3 separate regions of the Homo sapiens genome follow, and all the other regions are linked to region 3. Evidence: fine-mapped expression QTL. A gene starts in region 3. Each other region holds a variant in brackets. All regions are shown on one strand. Distances are from middle to middle.

What was found.
Region 1: its variant is fine-mapped to the expression of SBF1 in transverse colon (CEDAR, PIP 0.95). The same link has a PIP of 0.9 or more in CD4 T cells.
Region 2: its variant is fine-mapped to the expression of SBF1 in whole blood (TOPMed, PIP 0.99).

Annotation. Positions count from the first base shown.
Region 1 is chr22:50,444,381-50,450,159 of GRCh38, forward strand. PPP6R2 (protein phosphatase 6 regulatory subunit 2) reads left to right here. Exons shown (of 24, transcript NM_001242898.2): 24 at 1-710. SBF1 (SET binding factor 1) reads right to left here. Exons shown (of 41, transcript NM_002972.4): 37 at 4,163-4,270; 38 at 3,853-4,064; 39 at 3,142-3,229; 40 at 2,942-3,073; 41 at 620-2,860. The coding sequence ends at 2,762. Among named protein-coding and RNA genes, the nearest start is that of SBF1, 28 kb to the right of the region's middle. RefSeq lists an enhancer at 221-1,067. The variant TTC/T (reference allele first, on the strand shown) is at 2,435.
Region 2 is chr22:50,344,798-50,354,994 of GRCh38, forward strand. All of the region lies in intron 1 of PPP6R2 (protein phosphatase 6 regulatory subunit 2), which reads left to right. Among named protein-coding and RNA genes, the nearest start is that of PPP6R2, 6.6 kb to the left of the region's middle. The variant A/G (reference allele first, on the strand shown) is at 4,947.
Region 3 is chr22:50,470,666-50,480,862 of GRCh38, forward strand. SBF1 (SET binding factor 1) reads right to left here and starts at 4,370. Exons shown (of 41, transcript NM_002972.4): 1 at 4,121-4,370. The coding sequence starts at 4,175. RefSeq lists enhancers at 73-132, 1,891-2,802, 2,803-3,712, 4,623-5,532 and silencers at 3,732-3,861, 4,282-4,741, 4,322-4,526.

The sequences.
Region 1 (5,779 bases), 28 kb before region 3:
AGTTGAAACCAGTTGGACGGCCCAGCTTGCGTCTCTTCTGCCTGAGTGGGCCTCTCAGGTCACTCGTGCCCTGCTGGAGGACAGAGGGGCACCTCAGCCGCCCCCAAGCCCAGAGCACAGCAATAAGGTCGGCCTGCAGGAGCCGGGGTGGGGGTGGGGGTGGGGGGGGCAGGACCCTGAGATGCCACCAGGACCTGATGGGCCAGGAAGGGCGTGGACATGGAGGCTGTTTTTACAGTTTTTTTTTTGTTGTTGTTTTGTTTTTAAAGAATACAGAAGGAGCCAAGCTTTTTTGCACTTTGTATCCAGCTGCAAGCTCAGGGCAGAGTCAAGGGCCTGGGTTGGAAAAACCTGACTCACAGGAATGCATAATTGACCCTTGCAGCTACCCAATAGCCCTTGGAGCTGGCACTGAACCAGGCTGCAAGATTTGACTGCCTTAAAAACACAAGGCCCTCTAGGCCTGGCAGGGATGTCCCTGTGCCCAGCACAGGGTGCCTGGCAGGGGGAGACCACAGGTATGCAGGTGGGGGGACATGGTGTGGCACTAGGGGCTCGAAGACTGGTTTCTAGCACTACCGGTCACGGCCATGTCGTCCTAGAAGGGTCCAGAAGATTATTTTACGTTGAGTCCATTTTTAATGTTCTGATCACCTGACAGGGCACCCCAAACCCCCAACTCCCAATAAAAGCCGTGACGTTCGGACAAACCGCGTACTGTGAACCTTCCGGCCCCAAAGCCCCGGCCCGGCCAGGGGTGGGAGAGTCTCCTCCAGCACCTCTTTTGTGGGCCCGCCACCCCCCAGCGTTATCCCCGTGTAATGGGTGGAGGCGGAACAGGCCACATCACGGCATCAGGTCTCTACAGCTTAGCAAATACTGACATTTTTCCGTTTGGGGGATGGGGGGAACCACTTCGCCTAACGCTCAAACACATCAACCCCAGGACTTCCTTTTGTGCCAGCTCCCCCTCCCAGAAGCCTGGGCCCCACCTTGTCCTCAGTGGCTGAGTGGGAGGGGCAGGTGGAGACCAGACCCCCACCCCGCCCCAGCGAGCTTGTCTTTCCACCACGGTTGGGGGTGGAGGGAACCCGCTCAGCTCCCCAGAGGCCGAGTCTCTGCCCCAGCTACACATTGAGTGCCTTGTTCTCGCCGCCTACCCTGTGCCTGGCATTTGTCCTCTCCCCCCACAGACGTGGAACAGGGAGGGCAGGGTCCTTTCTCCCCTTACTCTGACCTGTGGGTTTTCCAGGTGCCAGGAACTTCGGTCAGGCGCCATCTGTCCGGCCTGAGGGAAGACCTGGCTGGTTTCAGTGGCTCAAGTGAGCCCACCCTCACATCTCGCCCAGGTGTCCCAACACCACCTGTGGGGTGGGGGAGGTGGCGGGACCATGCTGGGCCTGACAGGGTCCAAGGCCATCCTTGGCTTCAACGTCCCACCAGGGGAGGGTCTTGGCCCCCCACCTGCCAGCACTGGGCCCTGCCTCTGCAGCTGTCATCAGAACCTTCCCCTCACCCACACCTGCTGCTCGCCTCCCACCTGAGAGGACCACCTGAGGGACCCAGCCTCTAGCCAGGTTCTCTGCCCCTCACCAGCCCCTCTGGCCAGGTCACCAGCTGCCACTCTCAGATGTTCTCTTGGCCTTTGCAGCGTCTATAACCCTCCCCACCTTCTGCTCCTGCACCCCTGGCCAGGCCTCGTCACAGGCAAGGACACAACAGCTCAGCAGGTGAAGCCCTGGGCCTGGTGGGACTCAGGTTTGAATAGGAAAAGAGCAGTGAGGGGCCACAGTGACACCAAGAAGGGAAGGACGGGGGCCCTCTGAGACCCCAGGGAAAGGACTTTTGGGGCAGAATTCCCAAGAACTGAGAGGGTCCATCCCCCATGGGCGTTGGCCCCTTACTCTGCCAGATGCTGCTCGTTGCCTGGCAGGAGCCAGATGTGGTCAACCTGCATTCCCCTGGGAGCCCACTGTCCCCCCCCCCCCCCCGCCTCCGGCCTCCATCCCTTCAGCTCGGGTCTAGCCAGAAACTGACGTCCACCTCAAGTGTCCTCTGGACCTGCAACAGCCTTCTGGGGTCAAATGACCACCCACCCTTTCACCCCCAAGCCTCTGTGAGGTCAGCTTCTGCATCCCCTGGGTAGGGATGGGGGCTTCCTCTCCAGCCGTGCCGGCCCCTAGACCAGCCCTGAGGCGTGGAGGGAATCAAGCAAGTCCCCAGTGAAGCCTCCTGCTCGATCCGCCCCCAGAGCAAAGTCACTCCCAGGGACATGCAGGCCGAGCTGGGTGGACCCAGGCACCAGGAGAGGCTCACGAGAAAGATGCCAACCTCCCGCCAGGTGGGCCTGGATAGGGGCAGATGGGACCCTCTGGGTAGGCCGAGAGCAGGCAGCCGGGGAGTGGGGAAGGCAGGCACAGGAGCGTGGCGTTAG[TTC/T]TCTCTTTATATAGACTCTGGTTCTAGAAACTCGCCTGCAGCCGCTGGCTGGACCAGCACACGCTGACGGGGCCGGACTATTTACAGGCCCATTGCGGGCTGTACCTTGGCCACCTCCCGGCACGGTGCTCAGCTGTGACGCCAAAATAAGTTAGGGCCGGCCGGGCGGGGCGGGGCGGGGACGGGGGCTGTACACACAAGTGCTGGGGGCTCGGGGCCTCAATACTGTCGAGGGCCGGGGCTGTAAACATGGCCGGGGCGGCCCTGCCCACCCCTAGTGGTCGGTAACGACCGGAAGCAGAGCAGCCGGGCAGGGCTGGGAGGCTCAGGCGTCCGACAGGCAGCTCTGGATCCGGTCCACCCACTGCTGGGCCGAGGGCACGTCCTGGGCACAGAAGTTGTAAACGCGACGCGTTGTCTTCACCTGGGGAAGGGCGGGTTACTGACTCCGCAGCCCCCACACCGCAGAGCCCCTCCCCTCTCCCAAGCCCCGGCCAAGGCTCACGTCAAAGAAGGCCTTCTCGTCCACAGTCTTAGGGGCACCCATAGTGGGCGTGCCAGGTGCCACAGCCTCCACCTCCGCCAAGTCGATGACACCCTTGCACTCTGTGTCCACACGGTGGTCGTAGTAGCGCAGCTGGAGGAGGCCACAGAGTCAGCGGAGCCCCCTCCCCCGTGAGTCCCCCCCACCACCTGATCACTCACCTGGTGCTTGGTCTTGTCCAGCACGAACCAGCGGGCCTTCCAAGGCTTCATGAAGGCCCCCTTCTTGTACAGAGTGCCCTCGTAGGACCTGCATTTCCAGCAGAACCAGGGCCAGGCTGACCGTCATGGCCCAGCCAAGCCCAGGCCCCAGCAGTCGTCCCCCCCTTGCTGTCCCAGCCCAGGAGGTAAGACCAGGCACCCTGTCCCCAGAACTGACCTAAGCCCAGAGCACTGGCCAGGGGGCCACAAAGAAGCCTTTGATGGGGGGCTGCAGGCCCAAGAAGACGACGCCCAGAAAGGAGACAGTGAAGGGCGCCTCACACCCTCCAGACTCCAGGGAGCATCCCCACACCAGAGCCTCAGGGTCTTGGGAAAGCAGCCCCCTACACAGGGCAGGCGCCCTTACGAGGAGAGGGATGGCCAGGCAGGTAGATCTGTAGAAGCAGCCACGGCAGCAGCTGCCTGGGATGGATCCTGCCAGACTCCAGACTCACGGGGGCCCCACCACTGCCCTCTCTCTACTCCTCCCTCAGCCACTGCAGGCTGTGGTCAGCTGTGGTCACCAGTTCGACACCCCAAACCCCTCCCAGTGGTGGTGTATACTTAAGCAAGCTCCTCAAAAGCACCCGCAATCTCCCACCAGAGGACTGCCTGGGACCCCAGAACACCAGCTCAGAGGTGTCCATGTGGCAGTGGGAGGTGCCCTCATACCTGTTCTCACTCTCTGCTGTCTGGAACTGGCTGTACAGGGTGCTGGTGCTGCGGCGGGCAGCCTGACGGGAGCCGGATGTGGTTGAGCCACTACTCTGGTCGCTGTCCAGGCTGAGGCTCAGGGTGGAGCCCACGGGCCCCTCCTGCAGGTACACACCCAGCGAGCGACGGTGGTGGGGTGCGGTGGACACAAGGAGGGAGCTAGGGGTGCCCTGGGAACAGGAGGTTGGGACTTGGGTCAGGGCTGGACAGACTCCACTTTCTCCCAGCAACACGCCCACCGTGGACGCTCACACTGGCCCTCACTCACACGGCCGTCTGGCCGGCCCTCGAGGCGCTGTGCAGCCTTCACCCGGTCCCAGGTGTCCTTCCAGCGCTCAGCGGGTTGGCCCAACTCTGTCTCCAGCCTCTGCAGCTCCTGGGGGAAGAATTAATGGCAAGTTTATTCAAAAGGAAATATCCAGACTAGAGCACGAAAAGACAAAAGGAAAACACAGGAAAGAGACACAACGGAAAGGCCTAACGCGTGTGTGACTGGCCACAGGGGGAGGTGGCAAGAGGGAGGGAAGGAATATGCAAAATGAATATTCGGAGACAACAGTTGAAAAATTTCCCAAACTAACCAGAGGCATCAAACAACATAATCAAGAAGCACTACAGACCCCAACAGGGTAAGTTAAAAACACACACCCCGGCCAGGCGTGGTGGCTCACGCCTGTAATCCCAGCACTTTGGGAGGCCGATCACCTGAGGTCAGGAGTTTGAGACCAGCCTGACAAACATGGAGAAACCGCATCTCTACTAAAAATACAAAAAGTTAGCCCAGCATGGTGGCGCACGCCTGTAGGAGAATCGCTTGAACCTGGGAGGCGGAGGTTGCGGTGAGCCGAGAACGCGCCACTGCACACCAGCATGGGCAACAAGAGCAAAACTGCTTCTCAAAAAAAAAAAAGACCACACAATACTGATCTTCAACACTGCAGGGTCCACAATGTCCAGCTTACAATAAAAGAACAGCAGAAAAATGGAGAAAAACATTAAAATAGACCCTGAAATGAAACAGGAGTTAGAACATACAGTAAATTCAAGAGAGTGATTTTAGGGCCAGGCGCGGTGGCTCACGCCTGTAATCCCAGCACTTTGGGTGGCCGAGGCGGGTGGATCACGAGGTCAGGAGTTCAAGACCAGCCTGGCCAAGATGGTGAAACCCCAACTCTACTAAAAATACAAAAATTAGCCGGACGCAGTGGCAGGCACCAGTAATCCCAACTACTCAGGAAGCTGAGGCAGGAGAATCACTTAAACTCAGGGGGCGGAAGTTGCAGTGAGCCGAGATCACACCACTGCCCTCCAGCCTGGGCGGCAAAGTGAGATTCTGTCTCAAAACACACAAACACACACACACACACACACACACACACACACCCCAAAATGGGACAGAAAAACTGCTGAAAAACAAAGAGAAAAGTCCCAAAACCTGCCAGAAGAAAAAAAGACATGCTCTCTTTGAAAGAGCAACAATAAAACTGACGGCTGACTTCAAAAGAGAAACACGAGGCCAACTGTCAACTTCCAGCCATGACAGATAATTAGTCTGAACAGCCCTCCCTCCATATGCAAATGATGAAACTGGACAAGAAGGGGAAGCCGTTGTTTCCAGATGTCAGACAAGCAGTGCAGCTTGAGAGACAGGAGCCTAAGACATGGGACCACATAAGATGGGCCCCACAGTCACCTGTTTTCTGCCCAGCCACAGTGCAGGGAGGCAGGGCCAGAGCAACACACGGGAGCTTGCTGAGCCGAGGAGGCAGAGACGGGACGTCCAGGGGCGCTAGTGCAGCTGGGTCTGCAGGGCAGCCCACAGAGGGGAGGGAGCACCACAGCAAAGGGGCTCTAGAAATCTAGACAGAGCCCTCCTTGAGTCGTT
Region 2 (10,197 bases), 130 kb before region 3:
CAGTCAGTTCCCCCCCCAGTCAGTGCCCCCTCTAGTCAGTTCCCCCCCAGTCAGTGCCCCCTCTAGTCAGTTCCCCCCCAGTCAGTGCCCCCTCTAGTCAGTTCCCCCCCAGTCAGTGCCCCCTCTAGTCAGTTCCCCCCCAGTCAGTGCCCCCTCTAGTCAGTTTCCCCCCAGTCAGTGCCTCCTCCAGTCAGTTTCCCCCAGTCAGTGCCTCCTCCAGTCAGTTTCCCCCAGTCAGTGCCTCCTCCAGTCAGTTTCCCCCAGTCAGTGCCCCCTCCAGTCAGTTCCCCCCAGTCAGTGCCCCCCCAGTCAGTTTCCCCCCAGTCAGTGCCCCCCAGTCAGTGCCCCCTCCAGTCAATTCCCCCCAGTCAGTGCCCCCTCCAGTCAGTTCCCCCCCAAGTCAGTGCCCCCTCCAGTCAGTTCCCCCAGTCAGTGCCCCCTCCAGTCAGTTCCCCCCCAGTCAGTGCCTCCTCCAGTCAGTTTCCCCCAGTCAGTGCCCCCTCCAGTCAGTTCCCCCCCCAGTCAGTGCCCCCTCCAGTCAGTTCCCCCCCCCAGTCAGTACACCCTCTAGTCAGTTCCCCCAGTCAGTGCCCCCTCCAGTCAGTTCCCCCCAGTCAGTTTCCCCCCAGTCAGTTTCCCTCCAGTCAGTGCCCCCCAGTCAGTGCCCCCTCCAGTCAGTGCCCCCTCCAGTCAGTTTCCCCCCAGTCAGTGCCCCCTCCAGTCAGTTCCCCCCAGTCAGTTTTCCCCCAGTCAGTTTCCCTCCAGTCAGTGCCCCCCAGTCAGTGCCCCCTCCAGTCAGTGCCCCCTCCAGTCAGTTTCCCCCCAGTCAGTGCCCCCTCCAGTCAGTTCCCCCCCAGTCAGTTTCCCCCCAGTCAGTTTCCCTCCAGTCAGTGCCCCCTCCAGTCAGTTCCCCCCATCAGTGCCCCCCTAGTCAGTGCCCCCTCCAGTCAGTTCCCCCCCCCCGGTCAGTTCCCCCCCCCAGTCAGTGCCCCCTCCAGTCAGTTTCCCCCCAGTCAGTGCCCCCCAAGTCAGTGCCCCCTCCAGTCAGTTCCCCCCCAGTCAGTGCCCCCCTCCAGTCAGTTCCCCCCAGTCAGTGCATCCTCTAGTCAGTTCCCCCCAGTCAGTGAACCCTCCAGTCAGTGACCCACCCAGTCAGTGCCCCCTCCAGTCAGTTCCCCCCCAGTCAGTGCCCCCCTCCAGTCAGTTCCCCCCAGTCAGTGCATCCTCTAGTCAGTTCCCCCCAGTCAGTGAACCCTCCAGTCAGTGACCCACCCAGTCAGTGCCCCCTCCAGTCAGTTCCCCCAGTCAGTTGCCCCCCAGTCAGTGCCCCCCAAGTCAGTCAGTTCCCCCTCCAGTCAGTTCCCCCAGTCAGTCAGTGCCCCCCAGTCAGTGCCCCCCCCAAGTCAGTCACTGTCCCCTCCAGTCAGTGCCCCTCCAGTAAGTTCTCCCCAGTCAGTGCATCCCCTAGTCAGTTCCCCCCAGTCAGTGCCCCCTTCAGTGTCCCCCAGTCAGTTCCCCTCAGTCAGTGCCCCCCCAGTCAGTTCCCCCCGCAATCAGTTCCCCCGTCAGTGCCCCCTCCAGTCAGTGCCCCCCAAATCAGTGCCCCCAGTCAGTGCCCACTCCAGTCAGTTCCCCTCCAGTAAGTGCCCCCCAAGTCAGTTTCCTCCCAAGTCAGGGCCCCCTCCAGTCAGTTCCCTCCCAGTCAGTCAGTGCCCCCCCAGTCAGTGCCCTCCTTCTGTTCCCCCACCCTACACCAGTCAGTGCTTCCTGCACCAGTCAGTGTCCCCTGCTAGCTAGTCATTGCACCTCACCCATCAGTCCCCACCCCACCCATCAGTGCCCCCCACCGTCAGTCAGTGCCCCTTGCAAGTCATGCTCCTCCTGTCGGTCAGTGCCTCCGCATCTGTCAGTCCGCGCACTGGTCAGTGCCTCCACTGTTGGTCAGTGCTCCCCCACCGTCAGTCCACTCTGCTCCCCATCAGTGTCCCCCAGTCAGAGTCCCGCATCCCTGTCCCCCGTCAGCCAGTGCCCCCCCAGTCAATTATTTTCTTTCTGTCATGTCCCCACTTCCCATCAGTGCCTGCACCCCCACCCGTACCCGTCAGTCACTGACCGCATAATCCCTCCCCTGCCAGTGCCCTTCCTTGTCAGTCCAAGCGCTCTGTGACCCCTTCTGTCAGCAATGTCCCCACCTGTCATTGATCTTCTCTGTCAGTGCCCCCCATCAGTGCCAGTGCCTCTGTCAGTGAGCCCCACTGTCAGTAAGTTTCCCTCATAAGTGTCTCCCTCATCCTGCCTGTTGTGGCCCTTCCGCTCTTTGCTATCGGCCTCTGTGTTAGTGCCTGTCAGATCCTCCCCATCAGTTCTCCCCTGTTGTCAGTTCCTGTCCCCTTTCATGCTACCTCCTTCATCCCTTATCTGTTAGGGACCCATTAGTACCCTGCCCTGCTGTTAGTGACCCCACCTGTCAGTGTCTCCCCACTGCTTCTCTCCTGCCTGTCAGTGGGAGAACTTTCAGTGCCCGCTGTCATCACCCCTCTTGTCCAATCACTGATTCCCCTTTCCATTATTTCCTAACCCTTTCCAACACTACTCGTCTTTTCCTGTCGCGCTCCCCATCACGGCTTGAGATATCACCAGTCATCTAACCTCACCTTACCCCGCACTGCCCTGTTGCTTCCATCCCCATCATCTCTTCCTTCAGCCTGTCACCTTCCCCCATGCACCGTACTGTCCCCCGACCTGCCACTCTGTGTACTCGCAGCTTCCCTACCTGCTTTGTCCACTCTCTTGTTACTGACTCCTCCCAATTTGCTGCTCATTCCCTGACCTGTCAGCACCAGCTCCCCCAAGTCTGTCACTTCCATTTAGTCCCTGCCTTTCACTGCAGCCCCCTCTTTGTCACTGTACCCACTGATTTTGTTCTAGACCCTTCTCCTGTGTCTTGTTCTTTCATCCACCCTTCCCTCATGGCCTCTCTCTGCCCTGCTCTTGGCTTCTCCTTGCCCCTGCAGTTGCCGACACTGTTCACTGTTCACTGAAAGAGGCTCTTCACCTCTTTTTGATGTCCCTTTTTCTGGTTTATCTTCCCTTTGTTTTTATTTTTTACTTTAAAATGTTGTGGGTACACAATAGGTGTATATATCTCTCCCCTTTGACTTTTCTAACTCACTTCAGTTAATCTTTGGAATGTGAGAGGCAGCTAGCTTTGAGACAAATTGGGGGACAGAGTCTCCCATGCTGAGAGGACAGCACATGCAAAGGCCCTGAAGTGGGAAATTTTGGGTGTGATATCCTCCAGGAACCTAGATAAGACTGATGTGCTTATGGTAAGGGAGAGAGAGGCAGGAGCCTGGGCTGGAAAGTTGGTTTTCTCATTAAGCCGTTCCTTGCAGGTGTTAGTAGGGAGTTGGACCTTCAGTCTGAGTTGTAGGAGAAACCTGGCCTGGAGATTGAGTTGGAGAGTGCCATGATCATATGGACATTGGCACGTGGACAGCAGGTGGGGGTGAGATGAAGTGTTGGGAGCTGGGTGTAGTGATTGTAATGGTTTAGAACTTGGTGGTGGGTTTAGGGAGATATTTTGGAGGTAGAGCTGTTGGGACTTGTTGGTAGATGAGAAGAGAGGTGTGAGAGAATGAATGGACTCAGGGTAATTTCTGGGCTGCTTTTATCCTCCCAGCCCCATCAACCCTTCTAGGCTTTCTGATGGAACAAATGGGTGGATAGTAGCACTGTTTATTGAAATAGGGAAGCTGAATTAGGGTGGTGTCAGGGCTGGGGGTGTTACTACAGTTTGGAAGTAGAAAGCAAGGCTTTCTCTTGGCTGAAAGTAGGGGAAGTCTGAGAAGTCCGAGGGTCACTAGGGAGAAGGTATCTTACAGGAGGGTCTGGAACCCAGAGGAGAGGCCAAGCCGCAGGTATACAACTGTCATCATGGGGGCAAGGTATAAAGCCTTGGGGATGGCTATTTATTTAAAAGCACATGGGCTGGGTGCGGTGGTTCACGCCTGTAATCCCAGCACTTTGGGAGGCTGAGGTGGGAGCATCACTTAAGGCCAGGGCAGCCTGGGGACATGACAAAACCCTATCTCTACAAAAACAAAAAGCAGGGCCGGGCGCAGTGGCTCACGCCTGTAATCCCAGCACTTTGGGATGCTGAGGCGGGCGGATCACCTGAGGTCAGGAGTTCGAGACCAGCTTGGCCAACATAGTGAAACTCCATCTCTACTGAAAATACAAAAAAAACTAGCCAGGCATGGTGGTGGGCGCCTGTAATCCCAGCTACTCAGGAGGCTGGGGCAGGAGAATCGCTTGAACCTGGGAGGTGGAGGTTGCAGTGTGCCGAGATTGTGCCATTGCACTCTAGCCTGGGCGACAAGAGTGAGACTTCCTCTCAAAAAAAAAAAAAAAAAAAAAAGTTGGGCATGGTGGTGTGCGCCTATAGTCCCAGCTGCTCGGACACTGAGGTGGCAGGATCACCTGAGCCTGGGGAGGTCAAGGCTGCAGTGAGCTGTGATCACTCCATTGCACTCCAGCCTGGGCGACAGCGTGAGACCCTGTCTCAAAAAAAAAAAAAAAAAAAAACGGGCTGGACGTGGTGACTCGTGCCTATAATCCCAGCACTTTGGGAGGCTGAGGCGGGAGGATCACTTGAGGCCAGGAGTTCTAGACCAGCCTGAGCAACATAGTGAGGCCCCATCTCTGCCAAAAATAAATAAAAGCACACCCACAAAAGCAGAATGTGGCCAGGCATAGTGGCTCATGCCTGTAATCCCAGCAGTTTGGGAGGCTGAGGCAGGTGGATCACCTGAGGTCAGGAATTCGAGACCAGCCTGGCCAACATGGTGAAACCCCGTCTTTACTAAAAATACAAAAAATTAGCCAGGCGTGGTGGCATGCGCCTGTAATCCCAGCTGAGGCAGGAGAATTGCTTGAACCCGGGA[A/G]GCGGAGGTTGCAGTGAGCCAAGATCACAACATTGCATTCCATTCTGGGCAACAAGAGTGAAACTCCATCTTAAAAAAAAAAAAAACAGAAAAAAGCAGCTGGGTGTGGTGGCCCACGCCTGTAATCAGTTTGGGAGGCCGAGGCGGGTGGATCACCTGAGGTCAGGAGTTCGAGACCAGCCTGAACAACATGGTGAAACTCCGTCTCTACTAAAAATACAAAAATTAGCCAGGCGTGGTGGTGCATGCTTGTAATCCCAGCTATTCGGGAGCCTGAGGCAGGAGAATGCCTTGAACCCAGGTGGTGGAGGTTGCACTGAGCCAAGATTGTGCCACTGCACTCCAGCCTAGGCAACAGAGCAAGACTCTGTCTCAAAAAGAAAAAAAAAGAAACCATTTTATTTGCTCATTCATTAAAAGCAGCTCCTTATCTGTTTTATCCTGAGATTGCAGCAATTCAGTCACATCTTCAGGCTCTACTTCTAGTTCTGTTACTTATTTTTTGAGACGAAGTTTCCCTCTTGTTGCCCTGGCTGGAGTGCAGTGGTGCAATCTTGGCTCACTGCAACCTCTGCCTCCCGAGTTCAAGCGATTCTCCTGCCTCAGCCTCCTGAGTAGCGGGGATTACAGGCGCCCACCACCATGCCTGGCTAATTTTTGCATTTTCTATAAAGATGGGATTTCACCATGTTGGCCAGGCTGGTCTCGAACTCCTGACTTCAGGTGATCTGCCTGCCTTGGCCTCCCAAAGTTGCTGGGATTACAGGCATGAACCACTGCGACCGGCCTGAAATGTATTTCTGAAATAATAAGAAAATTAGGCTGGGCGCGGTGGCTCACGCCTGTAATCCCAGCACTTTGGGAGGCCGAGACAGGCAGATCACGAGGTCAGGAGATCGAGACCATCCTGGCTAACACGGTGAAACCCCGTCTCTACTAAAAATTCAAAAAATTAGCCGGGTGTGGTGGTGGGCGCCTGTAGTCTCAGCTACTTGGGAGGCTGAGGCAAGAGAATGGCATGAACCCAGGAGGCGCAACTTGCAGTGAGCCGAGATTGCCCCACTGCACTCCAGCCTGGGCGACAGAGCAAGACTCCGTCTCAAAAAAAAAAAAAAAATTACTCCTTGATCCATGGGCTGCAGTATGGAGTATGTTAGCAGGCATGACAACATTAGTCTCCTTGTACATCTTAATCAGAGCTCTTGGGTGACTAGATGCATGGTCAATGAGCAGTAATATTTTGAAAGGAATCTTTTTTTTCTGAGCAGTAGGTCTCAACAGTGTTTTTTTTTTTTTTTTTTTTTTTTTTTTTTTGAGACAGAGTTTCACTCTTGTTGCCCAGGCTGGAGTGCAATGGCGCAATCTTGGCTCACCGCAACCTAAGCCTCCCAGGTTCAAGTGATTCTCCTGCCTCAGCCTCCCTAGTGGCTGGGATTACAGGCATGTGCCATTGCGCCCAGCTAATTTTGTATTTTTAGTAGAGATGGTGTTTCACCATGTTGGCCAGGCTGGTCTCAAACTCCTGACCTCAAGTGATCCGCCCGCCTTGGCCTCCCAAAGTGCTGGGATTACAGGAGTGAGCCACCGCGCTCGGCCTGATTTAGCATAATTCTTAAGGGTCCTAGGATTTTCAGAATGATAAATGAGCATTCAATTTAAAAGTCACCAGCTGCATTAGCGAGTCAGCCTGTGCACTCAAGCTTTGAAGCCAGGCGTTGACTTACCCTGTCTAGCTATGAAAATCCTAGATGGCACCTTCTTCCAATAGAAGACTGTTTCATCTGTATTGAAAAATCTGTTGTTTGCCATAGCCTCCTTCATCAATTGTCCTAGCTGGATCTTCCAGATCTAGCGACAACTTCTATATCAGCATTTGCTGTTTTGTTTTTGTTTTTTGTTTTTTGTTTTGAAATGGAGTCTCCCTCTGTCACCCAGGCTGGAGTGCAGTGGTGCCATCTCAGCTCACCGCAACCTCTGGTTCCCGTGTTCAAGTGATTCTCCTGCCTCAGCCTCTTGAGTAGCTGGGATTACAGGTAGCCGCCGCCATACCCAGCTAATTTTTTTTTTTGAAACGGAGTCTTGCTCTGTCACCCAGTCTGGAGTGCAGTGGCGCGATCTCGGCTCACTGCAAGCTCTGCCTCCCAGGTTCATGCCATTCTCCTGCCTCAGCCTCCCCAGCAGCTGGGACTACAGGTGCACACCACCATGCCCAGCTAATTTTTTTGTATTTTTTAGTAGAGACGGGGTTTCATCGTGTTAGCCAGGATGGTCTCCATCTCCTGACCTCATGATCCGCCTGCCTCGGCCTCCCAAAGTGCTGGGATTACAGGCGTGAGCCACCGCACCCGGCCACACCCAGCTAATTTTTGTATTTTTTAGTAGAGACGGGGTTTCACCATGTTGGCCAGGCTGGTCTTGAACTCCTGACCTCAAGTGATCCTTCCGCCTCGGCCTCCCAAAGTGCTGGGATTACAGGCAAGAGCCATCGCGCCCGGCCGGCATTTGCTGTTTCACCTTGCACTTTAGTATGTTATGGAGGTGGCTTCTTAAACCTCATGAAACAACCTCCGCTAGCTTCCAGTTTTTCTTCTGCAGCTTCGTCATCTCTGTCATCCTTTGTAGAACTGAAAAGAGTGAGGGCCTTACTGTAGACTATTTAAGTCTGGTTTCGTCTTCTCTCCAAACCATTAAAACTTTCTGCAGGCATTGGGTGCGGTGTCTGACCCCTGTAATCCCAGCACTTTGTGAGGCTGAGGCAGGTGGATCACGAGGTCAGGAGGAGACCATCCTGGCCAACATGGTGAAACCCCATCTCTACTAAAAATACAAAAATTTGCTGGGTATGGTGGTGCGTGCCTGTAGTCCCAGCTACTCGGGAGGCTGAAGCACAAGAATTGCTTGAACCAAGGAGGTGGAAGTTGCAGTGAGCCAAGATCACGCCACTGCACTCCAGCCTGGTGACAGAGCGAGACTCTGTCTCAAAACAAAAACAAAAACAAAAAAAAAAAACACACAAAACAACAACAACGTAACTTTCTGCAGGCTAGGCACGGTTGCGCACACCTCTAATCCCAGCACTTTGGGAGGCTGAGTGGGGAGGATCGCTTGAGCTCGGGAGTTTGAGACCAACCTGAGTAATACAGTGAAACCTCATCGCTACAAAATAAAAGTTTAGCTGAATGTGGTGGTGCATGCCTATAGTCCCAGCTACTGGGGAGGCTGAGGTAGGAGGATGGCTTGAATCTGGGACGTCAGAGCTGCAGTGAGCTGTGATGGTGCCACTACATTCCAGCCTGGGCAACAGAGTAAGACCTGCCTCCAAACAGAAAGCAGCCTTCTCCGTGTCAGCAATAAAGCTGCTTTGCTTTATTATTATTTATGTCTTCACTGGAGTAGCAGTTTTAATTTCCCTCAAGAACCTTTCTTTGGCATTCACAACTTGGCAAACTGGTGCAGGAGGGCTAGCTTTTGGCCTGTCGGCTTTTGACATGCCTTCTTCACTAAGCTTAAGCATTTCTAGCTTTTGATCGAAATGAGAGACATGTGACTCTTCCTTTCCTACAGGATTAATTGACCTAACGTTATTACGTTATTACTGTTGTGTCTCAGGGAGTAGGGAGCCCTGAGGAGAGGGGGAGAGACTCAGGGAAATGGCCGGTCAGAACTTACGCAGCGTTTATTAAGTTTGCTATCCTATATGGGCACGGTTTGTAGTTTCCCAAAACAATTAAAATAGTAACATCAAACATCACCGATAACAGGTCACCATAACAGATAAAATAATAATGAAAGAGTTTGAAATATTGTGAGAATTACCAGAATGCAACACAGAGACACGAAGTAAGCACATGCTGTTGGAAAAATGGCACCCCTCGACGTGCTTGACGCAAGGTTGCTACCAGCCTTTAATTTGTAGAAAGCACATTACCTGCGAAGCACAATGAAGGGAAGCACGTTAGACAAAGTACGCCTGTGTTGTTTTCCATTTCACAGATGAGGAAATGGAAATAAACAGCAAGTAGATGATAGAGGCAAGATTTGTACCCCAGGTAGTGTGACTCAAAAGCCTCTCCCTTTTTTTTTTTTTTTGTTAAGGGAAAGGCTAACTTTTAAAAATATTTTTAAAAAATTTTAATAGATTCCCTAGAAGAATAGAGGAAGAACAAAGAAAATTAAAAGAATACATTTTGGAATTGTAACGATAACTGATTATGTATCAGGCATTTGTGTGTTCTTGTTTATGTTCCAATACAATTTTATTTAGAAAAGCTGACTGGGAGGCCGGGCGCGGTGGCTCATGCCTGTAATCTCAGCACTTTTGGAGGCCGAGGTGGGCGGATCACCTGGGGTCCGGAGTTTGAGACCACCGTGGCCAACATGGTGAAACCCTGTCTCTACTAAAAATACAAAAATTAGCCGGGCATGGTGGCACGTGGCTGTAATTCCAGCTACTCAGGAGGCTGAGGCAGGAGAATCACTTGAACCCAGAAGGTGGAGATTGTAGTGAGCCAAGATCATGCCACTGCACTCCAGCCTGGGCGACGGAGCGAGACTTTGTCTCAAAATAAATAAATAATAAATAAAATAAAATGCCTGGGACTAGAGATGTTTTGGATTTCAAATTTTCTCAGAGTTACCAGTTGAGCTTCCCCAATAAGGAATCTGAAATGCTCCAGTGAGCATGTCCTTTGAGCATCATGTAGATGCTCAACAAGTTTTGGATTGGAGTGCTTTTTTTATTTTTATTTTTTGGCTAGTCAAGTGAAGCACTGGGAGTGGAAAAGGAACACAAACATTTGTAGGTGGGCACGGCGCCTCACACCTGTAATCCCAGCACTTTGGGAGGCTGAGGTGGGTGGATCACCTGAGGTCCGGAGTTTGAGACCAGGCTGGCCAACATGGTTAAACCCTGTCTGTACTAAAAATACAAAAATTAGCCGGGCATGGTGGCAAGCGCCTGTAATCGCAGCTACTCAGGAGGCTGAGGCAGGGGTTGCAGTGAACCGAGATCATGCTACTGCACTCCAGCCTGGATGACAGTGAGACTCTCTCTCGTACACGTACATACAAATCTGTAACTGGTTGTGATCAATTAGTTGTAAAAGCTGCTGCACCTGGATCAGCCTTTTTTTTTTTTTTTTTTGAGACAGTCTCATTCTGTGTCACCTAGGTTGAGTGCAGTGGCACAGTCACAGCTCACCACAGCCTTGACCTGCCAGGCTCCTGAGTAGCTGAGACTACAGGTGCCTGC
Region 3 (10,197 bases):
CTGCTAGTGCACCTGTTGGCTTGGCTGGGACGGACCACAGGCTAATTAGGGCTTGTAGAACACGTACAGTCGGCTACACAACCATCCTCCCCACACCCAACAAGCAAACAGGTTCCTCAGTCGGAAGTACAGGGCACCTTCCGGAGCCCCAGGGAATGACAGAACACAGCTGGCCCCTGGAAAGGCAGGCCATGGAGGGCCCTGCAGCCCTCAGCTGTGAGCAGCTCTCCTCCTCACCCTTCTGAGGTCCCAGCCTGCACCTCAGCTCTGTGCTGTCCGGGGCCAGGCCACATCTTGGCCTCCAGGGGGATGTGGGGGGTTTTGCCACATCTTCCCAGGGTCCCCCACCCACTGAAGCTCTATTGCCATAGGAGTGACCTCCAGCAGCTGAGCTCCTTGCCCATCAGAGTGCTGCCTTTACCTCAGAATACACAGGAGGGAGGGTGCCCTCCCCACTCCTCCCCTTGGCAACAGGACGAATCCAAACGGTGTGCTGGGTGGCACTGGGCACCAAGGTTTCCTTGCCACCTCCACCTCTGAACATGGGGCTGAGGGGGCCACCTAAGGACAACACTGGGGCTTCTGTCCTGAAAGCCCCTCAAAGAGCACTCCCTCCTGCACCAATGTCCCTGCGGCCAGCCCCACGCAGACGGCAGGCCTGAAAGGCGGGCGGGCGGGCAGGCGAACACAGACCTCGCGTTCTGTCATCTGCTGGCAGCACCCCATCATCAGTGCCAGGCTCTGACGCCTGGAGGGCTGGCCCAGGCCAGCGTGTGCTGTGGGGAGGCAAAGAAGGATGGCAGCCTCTCCTGTTTCCCCACCACACTCCCCACAGTGCACGAAGACCAGCCCTGGCCGGCTCTGCTGCTTGTGGGGAACCCAGCTATAGGAAAAGAGAAAAGAAGGAAGGACAGCACCTTCCTGCTACGCCACCCACCCAACCCCAACGTGCACATGGCTCCCTCGGCCGCAGCAGCAGGCCATGCGCAGGGCCCCTGCAGCTTCCACAGCCATCCCCCCCAACCTCCCCTGCCCATCAGACCTGAGCAGTTCTGACCCAAGGCCTTGGACCCCTTCCGGCTCCCAGGGTGGAGGCTGGGAGGCAGTTGAGGCCATCCCAAACAGCCCCAACCCGCTCCAGAGGGAGGGCAGGAACGTGGGTGGGGACAGTAGATGGGGCTCAAGAATGCAGCCAGCACATCACAGTCAGGAGGAGAGGCGAGGCCATAGGGTGAAAGGTCTTTTTCTCAGATCCAAGGGGTCCAGCCCCTCCTCCCAGGCAGATGCACACTCAGCTGCTGGAGATGGAAGGCCGATGGCCAGGTCAGGGCCAGATCAAATGTGTCTCCTGTTCTCAAAGACACCTCAGCACTGGCCACGCTGTGATCAGGCCAAGAGCCGGGCAGAGGCAGTCTGTCTAGTCCTGATGCCTGCCCCAGAGCACAGAAGGTGATCCCTGACTCACCAGGTGAGGGGCCTGCAGATGGGCCAGCGCTGGCCACCATCACTCTCTGAGGTGAAAGGGTCACGGCCAGCACAGGCATTTACCTTCTCAGGGCCCCTCCCCACCTTTCCTGAGAGGTTTCCAGCTGGTAACCACTAGCAACTGGGATGCTGCCTCAGGCAGGACTCATGCACCCTCAGCACCCTGGTGCTGCACCCAGCAGCTCCAGACAGGATGTCCAGATCCAGGCCAAGACAAGCTATCCGCCAATCCTAATCCCCAACCCAAGAGACCCTGCATCCCGCCCTGAAGTCCTAGCCTGACAGAACAGAGAGGATCCTCTACCCACTCAGAAGTGCCTGTTGTGTCTGTGCCTAGAGAGTTCACACACCTGCTGCTCAGTCACTAATGAAAGAAACTCATCATTTCCAGGGCCTCCTGTGTGCTACTGCTTCACACCTGTGCATTCGCTGCATCCTCACGGCAGCCTGGGAGGTTAGCATGACTCACTCCATCCCCAGATGAGGAAACTGAGGCACAGAGAGCCAAACAACTGGCTCGAAGTCACAAGGCTATCAAGGGGCAAAGCAGAGACAAGTGACCCCCACGCCACACTCCTCTGCTTCTTCCCCCAGCTCCCACCGGCCCTGGTACCTGGCTCTGCCCTCAGCCCATGACCAGGGTCCCAGTCTATAGCCTTGTTCCCCTCAAGAATGAACAAGTCCTTCTAAGGGGTGCCTGGGGCTGCAAGGCCAGCAAGCAGCTGACCAGCTCAACCCCAGAAGGTAGTGGGTACAGGGCTCCACGGTCCTCCAACCCTACTGCAGTGGACCACTTATCACTCCTTCCGGTCACTTAGGGGAAGGGGGGGCACCTTGGGCTCCAGCCTTCTACCCTGTCCTGCGCAAAGGACACACACAAACAGGTGCCTGCACTACGTGTGGCTCCAGCAGTGAGCACACACGTCACAGCCAGCTTGTTGTGGAGCCCACTCTGCCTCTTCTCTCTGCCTACCTTCAACTCCTCACCCCACGGCCACCACGCCTCCCACCTGGCCTTTGCCTGCAGTCTCTACCAACCCAAACCCTCTCCACACTGCCCTCAGGATCATCAGGGTCATTATCAGCTGTTCCTGTAGCCCCCGCCCCAGCCCTCAGCCCAAGGCCCCTCACGCCAAGACAGCCCTCAGCCAGCCTTGCTTCCCTGGATCCTCAGGCACCCTCTGCCCCAGGTGGTAAGGCCTCCTCCATGCCCCTCATAGGTGCCTCGGTGCAGACAGCTCCCTCTGTGGGTCAAGACAACATTGACAGCCAACCTGCACAGTGGGGATGAGGACTATGTGGTCCTAGCAAGCGAGAACTCCCTCTCTAAAGAAAAAGACAGATGCTCATGACTGACGGTGCCATAAGACACACACTTGGATAGACATGAGCAGAGAGGAGTGTGTGCTGAGTAAGAGGGCACTGAGGAGGGGCTGGAGACGAAGAAGATGCTAAAGAGGCTTCAGGAAGTGTAGGGGGGTGTCCAGCAGAAGAAACACAAAAAAGAGAGAACTCCAGGTCCTTGGTGGGGACAGTGACAACTGGACTGACAAAAAACAGGGTAACTGGGAAGGCAAGCTCAATCCCACCTCCAGGCTCAAGATCCAGCCCCTGCCTGACCACACAGCCATCCCCACACACTGCCAGTCTGCAGCTGGGATCTGACAGCCTGAGTGCCAGTCCCAGCCTCTCTGAGCCGGCTCAGGCCAGGCAGTCAGCTTATCCGCGCCTAACTTCTCTACAGATGGGGGCAACACCAGGGCAACCCCGGTGGGCTGCTGGGAGGAAGAGGTGAGATCATGTACACAAAGGGCTGTGCGGGGCCTGGCACACCAAGCACGCTCGCCAACGCTGCTGTCTCCAGGCTGTTGCTGATGTCATCGTCAGGCTCCGTTTTCTCCTACCTCCTGGGCTGAAGAGCTCTCAGACACGGGCGCTGACCCCACACACAGACCTCCTGGGCATGGGCACCGACCGCCACGCTGATACCCCACCCAGGGCTTGGCGTGCAGGGCCTGGACCGTCAGGCGAGTCGCCAGGAATGCTCTTCTCTCTACTCTCGACGCTTCCTCCTCAAATCCTCCCAGTTTCAAATCAAACACCGCTTCTCCATGCACCAAACCCGAACTCCACCCCCTCTTTGCACCCCGCCAAGACCGCCGGGGGCTTCAGACGGAGCACCAAGGTCAGAGGCGGGCTGGCGAGCCGCGGGTCCGCGCCCCTGGAGCCACTAGAGCCACAGCCGCCCGCAGCTGGCCAAGGAGAGAGCCCGTCCCACCCCAAGGAGGCCGGGCAGGCCGGGCCCAGCCTTCTCTCCCTGCCGCCACCAGGCCCGCGCGGCCACGCCGCCCCCAGCGGACGCCCATTCTCCCCACGGGCTGTCCGGTCGGCCCTGGCCTTCAGTCCCCGCCCGGCCCCCGGCCCCGGCCCTCAGTCCTCGGCTCCCCCGACCCCGGCCCTCAGCGCCCAGCCCCCGGTCCTCGGCCCTCAGCGCCCGGCCCTCAGTCCTCGGCCTCCCGACCCAGCCCCCAGCCCTCGGCCCCCAGCCCCCGGCCCTCGACCCTCAGACCCAGCCCCTGGCCCTCAGCACTCGACCCTCGGCCCCCGGCCCTCAGCGCTTGGCCTCGGCACTCACCGCGCGGGTGCGGCCCGAACGCCACCAGCACGAAGTAGTCCGCGAGCCGCGCCATGGCGAGGGACGCGGGGCGGCCCGAGGGGCGCGGGCGGGCTCCGCGGCTCGGGGACTCGAGGACGGCGCGCTCATGGCCCGGCCCCGGCCCTGGACCGCGCACCCCGGACACCCCTGGTTCGCTCCGCGGCGGCGGCGGCGGCGGCGGCGGCGGCCCAGGTTCCCGCCGCCATCTTCCCAGCCAGCCGGCCCGCCCGGGCGCGCCGTGCGCCTGCGCGCTGTCGTCAAGCCCTGAGCGGGCGGGGCCTGCAACCGCGCATCTCCATTGGTCCAGAGGGTGGGAGGGCGGCTCCCGAGAGCAGCGCCCCGCCCATCGCTGACCACTCTGGGGCCCGAGCACCGCCCCTCGGGCCGGGCACCTGGACTACGGCTCCGGCGGGTCTGACGCCCTGACCCGGGTCGGCTGTGGTGTCGGCGGGAGGCATGGGCCAGGACCACAGCTGCCCTCGCCGTTGGGACTCCCCGCACAGGAGCCCGAACCCCACCCCTGGGCCGTCCCAATCTGGGGATCGGGTCCCCAGACTCCTCGTCCCCCGCCCCTCTCTGTCCAGCGGGAGAAAGGCGGGAGAAGCCTAGGCGCTGCCTACCGGGCCCCCCAAACTAGAAGTCAGAGGAGGCGCAGGGCCATCACCTCAGGGGCTGCCAGCCTGGCGATGGGGAACAGAGAGAGAATTCAGGCCCTGCCCTTGGGGTCCCAGGCTGAAGAGCCCCCATCTAGGCCAAGTGAGACATTTAACACAGCTTAAAAACGGCACGCTCATGTCCCCCTGTAAAGAGCAAATGTTCTAAGCGTGTGAGGCACATGAGGCCACGGAGCAGGGGGCTCTGGGAAAGCTGCATCCCCCAGGATCCCTGACAGTGCCCACCCCTCTCAAGGGCAGGGCTGGCCAGGGCCACCCCTGAAGTGGCTCAGGGATGAGCATGAGCCCAGAGCAGAACATGCTGGGAGAGAAGGTGCAGGAGCCAGCCTGGTGCAGCAGGGAAACCCCTCTGAGCACAGCAGGCCAAGGTCTGTTTTTTGTTATGTTTTGTTTTGTTTTTGAGGCAGAGTCTCAATCCGTCACCCAGGCTGAAGTGCAGTGACACCATCTTGGCTCACTGGAACGTCCGTCTCCTGGGTTCAAGCAATTCTCCCGCCTCAGCTTCCCGCGTAGCTGGGATTACAGGTGTGCACCACCATGCCCGGCTAATTTTTGTATTTTAGTAGAGAGGGGGTTTCACCATGTTGGCCAGGCTGGTCTTGAACTCCTGACCTCAGGCCATCCACCCACCATGGCGTCCCAAAGTGCTGGGATTACAGGCATGAGCCACCGCCCCCAGCCCGAAGGTCTGTTTTTTGTTTTTTGTTTGTTTTTGTTTGTTTGTTTTGAGACAGAGTCTCGCTCTGTCGCCCAGGCTGGAGTACAGTGGCGTGATCTTGGCTCACTGCAAACTCCGCCTCCCAGGTTCACATCATTCTCCTGCCTCAGCCTCCCGAGTAGCTGGGACTACAAGCACCTGCCACCACGCCCAGCTAATTTTTTGTATTTTTAGTAGCGACAGGGTTTCACTGTGTTAGCCAGGATGGTCTCGATCTCCTGACCTCGTGATCCGCCCATCTCGGCCTCCCAAAGTGCTGGCATTACAGGTGTGAGCCACCGCGCCTGGCCCTGAAGGTCTGTTTTTAAATGAGTTTGGCTGCTGCAAGAACTGGCCAAATGACTGGCATCCAGTCTCCATCCATGGGCAGGAGCCAGCCCAAGAGAATGAATGGAATCAAACTGAGAGGCCCCACCAGGGTCCCCTCCCTGCCCTCAGGCACAGGCCACGCTACGCCTCTCCTCTCCCACTGTTGGTTTTCACAGGTTGAGAAATCATCTTTTTAAAATTTAATTTTTTTGTAGAGACAGGGTCTTGATAAGTTACCTAGGCTTGTCTTGAACTCCTGTCCTCAAATGATCCTCCTGCATCTGCCTCAAAAAGTGTTGGGATTACAGGTGTGAGAAACTGTGCCCTGCCAGAAATCCTCCTTTTTGCCCCAGCTGGCTCAAGTTGGTTTCTGTCACTTGTACCCAAAAAGGTCCTCAGCACCACACTACCACACCACTGAGCTTGTGTGCAGGCTGGCAGGGGCCCGGGGCAAGTCTGGGCTAGTGCTTGAGCCCAGGGCTGGCTCTCTTCGGAGAGACTCTAGGGACCCTGCACCGCACTCTCCACTCTCTCTGAGACTCTGGGGACCCTGCGTCGCACTCTCTCCACTGTCATGCTTCCACCAGGCCCTTGGGAACAACCATCCACAGTGGCTCAGTGTCTCAGATGGATGGATGCCCCTCCCTACCGCCCAGCCTGCTGATTTCTGGTCAGCTGTCTTGCAGTCTGCACTCTCCTCGAACCTCTCACCCCACTTCCAGTGTCTCTGAGATAATTGGCTGCTCCTCAGAGAGCAAATAGAAGCTATCAGATGGGAGCACCAAGCCCCCATCTTACACCTCTCACACCACCCCTCCCTCCATTACCACAGGGCTCTGCCCCCCTGCCCACTCCTCATCTCAGGCCATCATTCACTGTCAGTGCCCGCCGCCAAACTCCATCCTTCCCTGTCTATGGATTCCTTGCTATCAGAGTCAAACTTACCTCTGCCATCATAAAACACTCAAACAAAACCCCCCAAAGGCCGGGCGTGGTGGCTCATGCCTGTAAATCCCAGCACTCTGGGAGGCCCAGGCGGGTGGATCACTTGGCGTCAGGAGTTTGAGACCAACCTGCACAACATGGTGAAACCCCGTCTCTACTAAATATACAAAAAATTAGCCAGGCATGGTGACGCGTGCCTGTAATCCCAGCTACTCGGGAAGCTGAGGCAGGAGAGTTGCTTGAACCCGGGAGGCGGAGGTTGCAGTGAGCCGAGATCACGCCACTGCACTCCAGCCTGGGAGATAGAGCGCAACCCCATCTCAAAAAAAAAAAGGAAAAAACCCCAAGATGCTGTTTGTCCAGCCAGTTGCCACCCTAGCTTCTTTTGCTTCTCACAAGCATTCCCCAAGGCCACCGCCCCCTCCTATGGCCCAGCCCTCGCACATTTGGAAACTTGTGTCTCCCCTTCACCTGTGTCCATCATAAGCGGTGCTGGGGCAGCCCCGTCGCTCCCCAGAAGCAGCTTCTCCAACTAAGAATGGACTCACATGCAACAAGCACCAGGGACCCTGGGAATCACAGACGGGGCCTCCTCTCTGGTGGGCTGGGCAGGTGCAGAAGCAGCAGCCAGGCTGATGCCTGAGGGCAGAGGATACACCCTCCCCACAAGCTGGCGGGAGGCAGGACTGTGGCTCACAGGGGCAGCAACTGTCCTGTCATCTCAGGGCCTGAAACGCAGCCCCTCGCTGGGGCTGTCCTCCACCTGTCCCAGATTAAAAACCTTGTGAGGGCTGGGCACGGTGGCTCACGCCTGTAATCCCAGCACTCTGGGAAGCCAAGGCGGGCGGATCATGAGGTCAGGAGATCGAGACCATCCTGGCTAACACGGTGAAACTCTACTAAAAATACAGAAAAATTAGCCGGGCATGGTGGAGGGCGCTTGTAGTCCCAGCTACTTGGGAGGCTGAGGCAGGAGAATGGCGTGAACCCAGGAGGCGGAGCTTGCAGTGAGTCAAGATCACACCACTGCACTCCAGCCTGGGTGACAGAGCGAGACTCCGTCTCAAAAAAAAAAAAAAAAAAAAAAAAAAAGCCTCTTGAGGACAGGGAATTTTTGCTGGTTTTTCTTTATTGGTGGGGCGAACGATTTGATTGCACTTGTGTTTTGAAAGGACAGAGCTGGTGGCAGTGTGGAAGGCTGAGGGCCGAGTGGGGAGGCAGCAGCAGAAGCCGCAGCAGCAGATTTGGGAACCTGGGGGATCCCCTGCTCAGGCCCTTCCCTACCTGCCCCTCCAGAGCTGGCGCTGGGCTCCATCCTTGGCCAGCCTCTCCGCATTCTCTGTGGATGAGGCTCACCATATCCTCCATGGCTGCGCCATCCCTGAAACCCCAAAACTGTTCTCGACCTGCCTTATCTTTAGTCCCATGCCTGCCAGGCTGGGGAGCGACCAGACCCCTCTCCCTGGACAACCCCCAGGCAGCTCGGCCTCAGCATGTCCAGGCCCCGACCTCTTCCCACCCCCTCAGCAGCTGCCACATCAGCAAACAGAAGGGCTTCGCCGGGAACTGAGCCCCTCATTTCCCGTCCTGCCCCGCTAAATTTCTCCCACCCATCCACTCTGTCCCCTCAAGCCCTTTCTGCCTGCCTCCCCAGCACCTGCCTTCTTGGCTGCCCCTCCACCTTTCAACATAAATGTGACACTTGGCCGGGCTTGGTGGCTCACACCTGTAATCCCAGCAGTTTGGGAGGCAGAGGTGGGCGGATTGCTTGAGGTCCAGACTTCAAGATCAGCCTGGCCAGCATGGTGAAACCCCGTCTCTACTAAAAATACAAAAATTAGCCAGGTGTGGTGGCAGGCGCCTGTAACCCCAGCTACTTGGGAGGCTGAGGCAGGAGAATTACTTGAACCTGGGAGGCGGAGGTCGCAGTGAGCCAAGATTGTGCCACTGCACTCCAGCCTGGGCGACAGAGTGAGACTCCATCTCAAAAAAGCAAACAAACAACAACAACAACAAAACACTGGGTGCAGTGGCTCACACCTGTAATCACAGCACTTTGGGAGGCCAAGGTGGGTGGATCACCTAAGGTCAGGAATTCGAGACCATCCTGGCCAACATGGTGAAACCCTCTCTCAAATACAAAAATTATCTGGGCGTGGTGGTGGGCACTTATAATTCCAGCTACTCAGGAGGCTGAGGCAGGAGAATCGCTTAAACCTGGGAGGCGGAGTTTGCAGTGAGCTGAGATTTCGCCACGGCACTCCAGCCTGGGTGACACAGTGGGACTCCATCTCAAAAAAAAAAAAAACATATAAATGTGACACTCCCTGCCCCCTCAACTGGTCAAAATAAGTAAATAATACCTGCAAGGCATCCCTGCCCTCCCAGATCGGCCTGTGGGGTGTGTGCTCGGCACTCCTCGACTTATTCACCCAGCAAATGTTGACTGTGCTCCCATGGTGTGTCAGCAGGAGGGTTACGGGGTGAGCGCAGGGGTTGGGGAGACAGAAGGGGAAGCACGAACGGACGCAGAGATCCTCAGCTCACCCAACAGAGAGGCCAGTCTCAGCAGCTTGGAACCCGTGACACCAAGTCCAGGACTCGTGGACAGTGGGTAGGCGAAAGCTCTGTGGAGAACAGTGAACCATCTATCAACATAAACACATGCTCACCTTCAACCAGAATTTCTACTTCCAGGAAGGTGTCCTATAGACACATCTGTGAGCTCAAGGCAGCAACTCATGAAAAGACTGGCAGTCACCTAATTTCATATTAATAGCAGATGAGATGAATCATACAACACCTATATGTTGGAGTAGATCCAACCATAGGAAAGAGTGGGGTCTCTGATGTGAGGACGGTCGGGCTGTGACGCCTGTCACCCCACTGGTCACCAGTGTTGATTCGGCTGATGTGGCTGGCTCAGAGGCAGGTGTCCCCCTCCTTCCCCACTGTTCCCTGTGCGTCCCTCCGAAGCTGCACGCTCCATCGAAGAGGATGGAGGACCGGGCTTCGAGTAGCTGCGCTCCTCTGCCAGGACCTCCAAACAAGCTCTCAGGAAAGAACGGGGTCTCAGTCCTACTGCAAATCTGCACACATGGATGTGTGTGCCTCACATAGCCACACCTAGGTGTGCCCAGGGCAAGTCAGGAGAGGGCTCCCCCCCAGACCAGGGTAGGGGTCCCAAGTGGGTGGCAATGGTGAGGGGAGTCTCACGTTTCACTCGTTTTAAATTTTTCTTTTTCTTTTTTTTTTTTCTTTTTTTGAGACGGAGTCTCGCTCTGTCGCCCAAGCTGGAGTGCAATGCCGCGATGTCGGCTCACTGCAACCTCCGCCGCCTGGATTCAAGCCTCAGCCTTTCCTGCCTCAGCCTCCCGAGTAGCTGAGATTACAGGCACCCGCCACCACGC